Linked DNA regions of Homo sapiens: region 1 is linked to region 2. Evidence: fine-mapped expression QTL. A gene starts in region 2. The other region holds a variant in brackets. All regions are shown on one strand. Distances are from middle to middle.

Region 1 (5,346 bases), 150 kb after region 2:
TGCAAACACAACAAGTAATTGCTTGTAATAGCGTACTTACACCCCCTGGGACCAATACAAGTTTCGACTAATATTTAATATCAAAGTTTTTTTCTTGTCAACTGTTAAGCTTATATTCTGAGTTGTTTTTTACTTTTTCCTTAAAAGAAGTGAACATTTTTTCAAAATAGGGTTTTGTTTTCATTCTTTCAAAATTATTTCTCTATAACTGGCACTTCAAATATATATTTTATTTCCAAATGAATTTTGAATAAATAACACAAATATATCAACACAACCACCAGTACACAATTGATGCTTTGGCTCTCATAGGAAGATTCTTTGTTCCTAAAGTCTTAGAGAGATTTTGGGCTATATTTTCTAAATAGTAAAGACCAATGCCTAATATACTGGACAGTCAGGTCCTATTAAGTGACATCTCAATCAGTCTGTAATTGGTACAAAGCACATAAGAAAAAGATATTAAGCCAGTTATTGAATAGGAAGGATACTGACATTTATTGAACCAAAAGGCTCTATATGCTGGGTTCCTAACCTACCTATTTAATACAAGAAAACAATTGTATAAGGTATAGTTATTTCCATTTTTACACATAAGGAAACGAAGCTGAGCTACTAAGGAACATGTCCAGAGTCATATAGCTAGAAAGTGACTGAGCTAAGATTTGAATACAGGTTCGGGCTGTGAAGCCCATTTTCCTTTCACTATACTGTTCTGACTCCTGAATTTTTAAAGATTATATTCTTTTATTCAAGGTAAAAAGGTTGAGAAACATTGTATTATCATGAAAGATTGAAAATGGTCAGTATCTTAAATTTAGTAATCAAAGGAAGTATGTCCTAGTGGAAAGGACAGAGGTGAGAATAAAGAAATCTTCCGTCTGCTGTGTTCTCTCACTAGCTACCTCTGAATAAATCAGACACAATCACATCATCTTGAAGAAAAGAACTCTGCAGGATGGCCATAATTAGCAACATTACTGATAGTAATAAGCTGGGGGTAGGATTGTAAGCATGCCATTTTCCCTTCCTTACAGGAGTAAGGTGCTGAGGAAGCTTCCCTGTAGAAGAGGTTCCATTTTCATATGTCTAATAATTGACCCCTTCATTGGTACTGCAAATAAAATACTGGCTGTGATGATTTTGTTATATTGATGCTCCTCAATGAGAATTAAAAGGAAACTTTCAGCACAATTCGTGTCTCTGAGTTATCCTTTTTCATGTATTTCTTTTATTTGTACCCAAAATAATACACTCTCATGGGAACATGGTAACAATGTGATTTCTTGGCAGTTCTCCAGATTCTCTTGTAATTGTGTAGATCCACTGTTGGTCACTGTTTGTATGGTCAGGGGTGTGAAAGTAAAGGAAAATGTATAAAACATTTAATAATTTCTTTATGCTAGGAACAATGCAAAACATTTCTCAAATTCCTGTAACATGTTTTTATCAATAATTTTATGTAACATTAATAGCCCTTTATATAATCCACAAATATTAGTTATTTACCTACTTGTGTGCTTTGGTGACAAAGCTGTAGAAATATTGTGCTAATTTTCATTATTAGATATTAATTTATGTAATGTACATATTGGTCATAATATGCTTTATTTCATCCAGCTTGTATACCCCTAAAAGAAGATTCACTGATGAAAATTTTTTAAATAAATAGACTGGTAGAGAACACTGATCAGTATCCCCTAATAAATCCACTTTATCCTCGGATGGTTTCTATCATGTAAACATAGGATTAAACTCTTAGCACAAATAAAATGGAATGTTTTCGTCTCTACATTCAGGTGCGAAATAGTTTTTTAAAAATACCTTTATAGCCCTGTTTCTAAATACATCTCATCCATTGGTGGTCCCCAAATATCAGTGTATATTGAAATAGTCACAGGAAAAAAAATCACATATGATTAGATTGACAATTATTGTTTATTCCTAATATCTTTAATATTTTTATAAAATGCTATAATGATATTCAAGAGACTTTAGTGATTTCAGTTAATATGTATGTTTGAAAATAGCTTTTTGTAACATATCAGTGGAAAAATCTATTCATTATTTTATTCTAACTTGGTAATATCTAATTATGTTTTTTAGCTCTTCTCACAGACAGTTTTATCATCTTATCATTTTTGGCACAAAACAAACTATGTTTTATTCAGTTTACCAAGAAGATGGAGTCTTCTGATGTAAACAAAAGACTGGAAAAACTCTCAGCCTTGGATTATAAGGTAGAGATTTTGATTTATATAGTCATATTATTAATTATTAAGGTATATGAGAGTATCACATAAGTTGGTATTCTGCTCATTATTCTTCAACATTTCTGGATTTCAGAAAAACTGGAAATATTACAGGATTAAGCTTAATTAACTGTAAACAGTGGCCATCCTAAGTTTTCTTTTATACTCTCACTATGGGGGGTTGTCTAACAATGGCACGTTTGGAGCAATTTATATAGTATTTATAGACATCAAAGACAGATAATAGAGGCAAGTTACACTTTTGAAAATGGTTTTCGTGCCAGTGGTAGTATATATACCATTCTCATTTTCCCCTAAGACCCCATATCATCTTTCTAGGGTAGGATAGCTTTCTAGGGTAGGATACTTTCCACTTCACAAGAAAAGAAAGATGAAGGCACTTTGAAAGGTTAATAGAAAAGTGTAATAAACAAGGAGGGGGAAGAACCCTCCCCCTCCAGCTATAACTGGACAAAATGCAAAAAGAAATCTTCATGTGTTAGTATCTCACCCTTCACTAATTCCAGGTAATTTGTTTCCTTCCTGTATCAGGAGCTTTACATCTATTAAGGCAGAATTTTTATTTTAAGTGATGTGTTTAATTTGAGTTTTGCCACATTACATTTTAACTGCTGGGAA[G/A]GCATATTCTCTGCTAGGATGAGTAATACATTTTCCAGGCTGTTTCAGTTCAAGGCCTCTTTTCAACAGTGACTTGTGTTTGCAAGATTGATCCAACCTCTATGATGTGGATTTGAGACAGTTCACTGTTCACTGGGAACAGAGCTGATATACAGCTTCCTTAAAAAAGATGCACACTTATGCCATACCTAGAGCATCTGTAGCAAGAGCAAAGAGTTTGAGAAGCTAGCTCTGTAGCTTGAAATGTGTGTGTGTTTTTGGCAAAGTAGTATTTAACCTAACCTTTTGCCCTTTGGGATTATTACTTATGAATGAGGTGGTGGTAGCATGGGAGGATTTAGTTTTATTTAGTAGGAACATTTATTCTTAAAAAAAGATTTTTAATGTGGAATAAAATAAATGAGTTTTTCATTGTGGTGATAAACTACCATCTAGTTTCGTTTGCCAGCTTTGTGAAACTTCTATAAAACCTTAATATAGATTTTTTAAAACTGGAAATTAGTGCTACTTATTATATTTGGTTAGCCAAAACAAAAATGGTATTAGCATTCTTAAAGGGATGTTAGTTCTAGAATGGCTAACTTCAGATTTACTTGAAATACTGTTTATTTACTAAAATTGATCGGTCTTTAAAATGCACCAGTGTGCATTAACTCAAACCATTTAAAGTAAGTATATATAAAATTCTGGATGAGTAGTTTCTTTATCTTAGGTGTGATAGCTTGATAAAATCTTCTCAACTGAAGAGTAGTAGCTACCTGAGAACAGAGAGAAACTGTCAAGATGTCATCTTTTCTTATGAAAAGATGAGGAAAAGACATCTAGCGTTTGGGTCCTTAAACCTTAAGTAAGGGAATTACTTACTTGCTTATTCGAATATGCCTTTGGATTTAGGAAAATAGGAACATTGGCACTCCATGTCATTCCTATACATTAGAGAAGTAATCTGTTTCCCTTCGGAAAACTCATTAATTTCATTTCCTGGTTTAATATTTAAAATGTATATTTTTAATACTTAGTCAAATCTGCTATTTGTCCATTGGAAGGATATTTTAAGAAATTTGTTTATTTTACATTCCCTCTTGGTCATCATGACAGAATACTGATAATATTAAACTCATAGGAAACATGAAATTTCCTAACATTTCATAACGTAAGTGATTTGCATTATGTGACAACTGAAAATGTCAGTCACTCATTGTGACTCAATTTCCTCATCTAGAAATTCATAGGTAACACACTTATGCAGCAAATCAGACATTGAAATAATGTATGTGTATTTTTAAGTACTTAGCAATTTCATCGTGGTATTTCTCTCAAATAAGAAGACTTAATGATATTGAGAGCTTAAATATAAGAAATTACACTTAATAGCATAAAGTACATCTGTGTTGTCTGTCATTGCCCATTTGGATTTTAAAACAAGGAAGTGGTATAGAGTATTGTACTTTTGCTTTTCTTTACAGCTGTACCATAGTTTAATTCTTTCAGATTGACATAATTTTGGCAAAGAAAATTGCAGAGTAAACATCCTTAAACTATTGACCTTTAACAAGTTTTCCTGTCTACATCTGAAAAAAATCCAATTCAATTTATTTAACAGTGAAGGGACACTGTGAGGAGTTAAATGTTTACCATGAGAGAACAACACTGGTAATTACTTTGATTTCAGTTCCTTTTGATGTGCATTCAGAGGATGAAGAGGTCAATAATATTATGGCCATGCAAATAGAAAAGGGTTCCTTTTGACCATATTGAAAAAAAATAGCAGAGGATTATTAAAGCATTAACCTTGGTTTTAATGGCCTTGGTTGAGTGGTGAGATCACAATTTGGATGAGCCTGATTATTTACTAAATACAATACATAAATGCAACGGGTTCTTAACACCCGTTGCACTCTGGCATTATCGCATTACTGCCATCCTTTGTTGCCTTGCAGACAGGAATATGAAAGCAATCTGTCATGTAGTGAGACTGGCTCCAGAAGCATTTCTCTGATAAGAAGACCCCCTGCCCTTTGCTAGTGTCTGGTCCAGTAGGCTTAGCCATGCGCTTAATCCCCAGAAAGTGGTTCGATTATTGCTGACCAGCAATGGCAAGATAGTTTTTTTTTTCTTCCAAGCTATCAACCTTCCATTAATTCCTTAAGCAGAAATACGGTGCAATCTATATTTCCTTGGCATGTGTCACACAGATGGTGCCGTGCTTATGTTTTCAAATAACCATGTTCCAAAATAACATAGTTTGAATAATAAATTCTACAAATCCTGCCTAAGAAAGAGAAGCATAATTCTCAGAAGCTGCATAAACTTTTATGCATGATGCTGTGGCTTATCCCTTTTATGCAGAATATATGTGTATACGTCGCATATATTCTTTAAAGAGATATTTGCCTCAAGTTGTTTTTCCTTTTTTTGTTGTCAGTCATTGTTAACACGTTATGTCTTAAACAGT
Region 2 (5,390 bases):
TATTCATATATATTATGTATTGAGAAAACTGGAAACTTAGTGACCACAATAGTTCCAACTATAGCTAACAAAATTGTCATTAGTACTAATGATATTACCTTATAAATCCACTGATGAACTGTTTTCTCATTTAATTCATTCATTAAACAAAACATCATTAAGTTCCTATCATGTACTTGGTACTATTTTAGGCCAGGGAATCCATTGGTGAATCACGTGAAGGAAACAAAAAGGATACACCAATTTTCTAAAACAGGGGGCTAGAGAAGCAGTAGAGAGTAGTAATTAAAGAGATGGACTCTGGAGCCAGACTTTCTGTGTTCAAGTCCTGGCTCCACAACTCATTAACTGCATGCTCTAGGACAAGTTACTTAACCTTTCTGTATTATTTCCCCATAGTAAAATGGAGATAATAATAGCAATTACCTAACAAACAGAGTAGTTTTAAGGATTAAAAGAGTTAACACACAAAGCACTAAGAACAGTACGTAGTGAGTATTTATAAATATCATCACAGAATTTTCCTCTAAAGACTTTAATAGCCTGTGGTTTTCTATTTACATTTCTGTTGCTCTGTATTAGGCCATGAAGCGCTCTTGAGAACAGTCTGTCTTTGATATGGATTTGCATTTCCACAAAAAGTATTTGTTGAATGAAGGAAGGTTAGGGTATAAAGTATGAACAGATACTACTTCAATGAACAGCAAACTAGGATAAGAAAAGGGGGGCTGAAGAGAGTGAAGATCACTATCTATTAAGTTTAACTTCCCATAAGGTCACCTATATGGTTAGAATAATGCAGTCAATTTTAGTAGCTACTTAAAAACATGTTCACAGTATCACAGTCCTTAGTGAAGGGGTTGTGGCCACCTAATGAACAGTTAATTCCACCTCAGCAGTTTTCTTCTGTGTCTTTGGGGAAATTACTTTCCCAGGTAGGTAATTCCATCTTATTAATGGTAGTATGAGGCTTAGTGTTTGAATGTCTGAAGATGAAACAGAGAAAGAAAAGTCCATGTATGGTTCTTTCTGCTCTTCTGCAACATTGCAGTTGAAAAGCAGGAGGGTGGGAGAGTCCTGCTGACTTTCACAATGTTATAGTGTGAACATAGGTTACTATTCTTTGCTCAGATATCTGGGCAGTGTGCCAAGGTCCAAAAAAGGAACGTCTTTGCTCTTAGCAGGGCACCAATGACTTTCCTGCAGATGCAGGCTCTGTGCTAACTTCTCAGCTATAAAGATTGAATTTAAGTGTCTGTTATTCCACAGACAGAGCCACATATTTCTTTTTCACTTTCAAATTTATATATATTTCTAAATTACATGTATTTCTATAACACAAAAAACTAAGCAGTACCATTTAGATTCCTTCATACAGTTTATTTTGCTGTCACTCCCTACAGACAACAAGCAAAGAATCCTCCGCTTTGAATGAGCTTACAGAAGAAGGCTCTTTTCTAACTCTGTCCATTCACACACCCTCCTGAGGGGGCAGGGAAATTGAGTCATGTGTGAGTTTGCTGTCAGTTCCAGCAAACTGCCAGACAAATTCTTCCTCATGTTCTGTCTCTGTGTTATCTGGCACCCCAGTGACCTTCCAACGGTGGGGCCTTGCTAGGGAAACTAGCTAAGAATCTGGGGCCCAAAATCTCTGTGACCTTGGGAAAATTATCTGACCTCACCAGACTACATTATAAGAGTAGATAATATAATCTCCAAATTCCCTTTTAATTCTACAATTCCAGTATTTTGAATGGCAAGGAATAAAGCTATCAAGTAATCTACATGCTGATAACATATTTGAGTTTGTATATGCAGTATGAACTGGTAACTTCATCCGGAATCTCAGCTAGTAAAAATAAGTTTTCAGGGAGTTGAGTACACTGTCTCTCCCCCGCTGCGAGACCTCACTGCGGTGGTCCCTATAAAAATAAAAATTCAGAAAGACTTGGTAAGTGTAAGACACAATATAGAAAAATGGCAAGAGTGTGAGACTCTTGGAGCAAATCACATTCTCTTTGGGTCTCGATAAACTCCATTTTAAGATCTGAAGTGGGGAGATTCGTCAAGATGACCTTTAAAAGATCCCATTCAGTTCTAAAAGCAAAAAGTCCAAGGTTATCAGATAATAAGTACCTCTGCTTTCTAGCTAAGGTTATTAGGACAGAAACTACCGAAACCATAATTTAAATGACTAATTATGTGACAAAACATTTAGGAAACCTAGGTTTAACACCTACTGGAAATTAGTAGCTGTCTCCACTGGCCCCGTTAGACAGGCAGAGAGAGTAATGCCCTTGCCTTGAAAACGTGTCTTTTCAGGTTCTGGGAAATTTCCAATTCATTCAAACATTTCTCCACATTCTCCAGCCGTTTTAGTATTTTGCAGATAAAGTAGGAAAAACAGTCGCAACTATAAATACAAGCCATTGTATTGATAGTATGAAGCGATTTCTCTGAGTTTGATGACAAATGTCACCTTCAAGCAGTACGCAGATTATTCCTACGCCAGAGTTCCTTCACCAACTCTCCCCCTCCCCCTCTCTTTCAGCAGAGACAAGCGATGGAGATGCAGGTTACCCAGGTCTTCCATGACAAAATGGTTACTCTGTTACATTTAAGAGAGGTGCTTCTGGAATTCACAATATACAGTTCAATAAAGAATATTTGCAGTAGTTATTTAGTTAGTGATGCTGTCACTTCAATATATCCTGGCATTACAAAAAAGGTCAATGAACGGGTTCCAAATAACATTTTGAGAAATTAGATATGGCGGAAACACGTCTGCTGCAAACGCAGATCGTAATCTGGAGCACCTGGTAAATACTACCTTTCCAGCTTTTTGCTTTCAAGGTCCCTGTGACAAAAGCCGTTATAAACACTGTGGGCAAATGAGGAGAAAAAGGGGTTAGGACCCAACCTTTCCCTCCCATCGCAAACCTTATCGTCCTTATCAAACACCGTAACGTCCTTTGGAAAATAGCTGCAGCGTCGCATTTTGTCCTCCCGTCATGCAGCAGGATTAAGATCGCTCCTCTCCCAGGACAACTACTTCTCCAGAGTCCTCCTAAGAGCGCCCCATACCCCGCAAGGTGGAAATCAATCCCTTCCCATTACTGGGTCACTGCGGCAATCCCCAGAAGATGAGTCCGAGCTTGCCAAAGGGCGCGAAGGACAGTGCCTTGCACAGCTGCCTCCCAAAAGTCCCTAAAGTGCAAGAAACCCCACTCAAGGGCGCGAGGGCCAGAGGTGGGCAGGAACCCGGGGCCCACACTCACCATGATTGAAAACTGCGGGGACAATTTCAACAACTGCAAAATGAGCCTCAGAGAGTCAGGTCACCTCTACCGCGGAACTGACTCGGAGAGGGCGAGCGGTGTTAGCGAGAAAAGGCTCCGCTCCCGACGCGGCGCTCTCTGGGAACTGTAGTTTACGCTGCCCTGGTTGTGGCGCAATCTCCAAAGCATTTCCTTCAAGTGTTGAACTACACTTCCCGATACCAGAGGTTTTTTTCAAGCTCTTCTCACTGCGCTCTGCGCCGATTGCAAAGTAGTCCCTGAGGATGAGCCCCTGTGATTGGAGGACGACAACAAACGGATGGTTTGGGCTCAGGAGGAAAGGACCTGCCTGATGGAGCCCGGCAATTGGCGGGAGAGATAGCGTGTGTAACTCTAGGGAGGGGAGAATCACCCCTTAGCGACATCACCCCCACGCGCGTGACTGAGACTGCATCCTCCCATGAGGGTAAACGTGGGAGGTAAAGAGACCTTCCGCTGCGTAAAGCTGGATCGACCCGGAAACAAAATCTTTTAAAAAACGATTGACACTCTGGAGGGGCGGGGGAATTGATAAGTTGGGACGACCGGACAGCTTCTCAGGTTGCTAAGCGACGAGGCGGGAGCGCACGCACACCCTGGCTGCTTTGTAGCACCTGAGGAAACTGTGGCGGCGGCGGCGGCGTCCTGGAGACCCAAGAGACCAAGCGAGCGTGTCGCTCCCTCTCGGGTCCGAGGACCTAGCCTAGGAACCTTCTGCCCGGGGTAGTGTCTGGTGATGAGGCGAGAGTTTTGCTGGGACGCCTACTCCAAAGCGGCCGGGAGTCGCGCTTCTTCCCCACTCCCGAGACAGGTGAGCCCTGGCCCGAGGGCAAGGGGTTTTCTTTTAACCTTAGGATCCGGAATGCGGTTGGTGCGCCGTCCCGCTTTGCTTTTATCCGCTGTGCGGATGCCTGCAAGCTCGCCGGTCCCTTTTCTGAGCGGAGTATGAGGGCTGTGGGAATGCAGCTATTTTGGAGGGGGTGGTGCCCTGGAGTAGGTGCACCCCCGACCCCAAATGGAGCTCTTCCAGAGTTATATCAAAAATATTTATTGAGCATTTACTTTGTAGGAGGTGAGCCTCTCCCTTCCAGGAGGTCACAGTATACGGTTCTAATTTGCTCTAAGCCCTCCGTGAATGTTGAGTTTTGTCCATTCCCTTTTGGAAGAAACAGGATGCGCCTTAAACCATCTTGAGTCTTAAAGTTATGCCAAACAGGCATTTCTAAGGAAAGACTGGCGACTGAAGGGGAGACACTGGTTGTTTAGTCAGTCAGTCTCAGCTGGTAAAACAACTTAAGAGGTTCTCTTTAAAATTAATGCTGCCAAGAGAATTGCTGTGCTTTTTGAAAGCTTGTTTCTTGTGGATGTTAAAAGGAAGATATGATGCTCGGGAGTAGCATACACAGCATATACGTAATGAAAATGAATAAAACATCTCTATTAGATAACATTGTTAGAACTTCCGTTTTTTCTCTGTCACTGATAAATGAATGCCAAGTAATATCTTTCAATTTTTCTCTATTTCAGTTTGGAGGATTTGCTATTTTTGGAAAGAAATGTAATGCTTTACTTTTAGCATTTATTAATATCATACCTGAATGACTCTCCTTGTATCTCTTTATTCATTTGGCTCTCAGACAACATACTTTCCTGGTTTTCCTCTTTTGTTACTGGTTCTCAGTTCTGCGGAGTTTCTAAATTTTTTTTAGTTGTGATCTCTTAACATTGGGGTGCCTGTATTCTCTGTCTATACTAAATCCCTCAGTGAGCTAATTCATAAGTTGCATCACTTCAAATGCTACTTTTAATGTCAAAAACTCTCAAATTTATGTGTCTAGTCCTGAATTAGTAGGTGTGCATTATTCTCAAACCTAGGTTCTCTGAGTTTTACTTTTTACTCTGAGCAGTTACGAAAAATTTCTTCCATTATCCTCCTAAATGAATTCTTCTACTAGCTGCTAACAGAAAGATTTTTCCATGTTGTTGTCCTTAAAAATATCATGATTTTACCTAATGTAAATGACGAGTTAATGGGTGCAGTACACCAACATGGCATGTATACGTACATATGTA

What was found. PIP is the estimated chance that this variant, and not a neighbour inherited with it, causes the effect.
Region 1: its variant is the best candidate, but not a certain one, in a credible set for the expression of MDH1 in lung (TOPMed, PIP 0.61).

What each region holds. Positions count from the first base shown.
Region 1 is chr2:63,434,315-63,439,660 of GRCh38, reverse strand. WDPCP (WD repeat containing planar cell polarity effector) reads left to right here. Exons shown (of 18, transcript NM_015910.7): 8 at 2,107-2,240. Among named protein-coding and RNA genes, the nearest start is that of WDPCP, 150 kb to the left of the region's middle. The variant G/A (reference allele first, on the strand shown) is at 2,892.
Region 2 is chr2:63,586,935-63,592,324 of GRCh38, reverse strand. MDH1 (malate dehydrogenase 1) reads right to left here and starts at 3,362. Exons shown (of 9, transcript NM_005917.4): 1 at 3,279-3,362. The coding sequence starts at 3,281. WDPCP (WD repeat containing planar cell polarity effector) reads left to right here and starts at 3,848. Exons shown (of 18, transcript NM_015910.7): 1 at 3,848-4,128. The coding sequence starts at 4,054. RefSeq lists enhancers at 3,332-3,651, 4,163-4,683.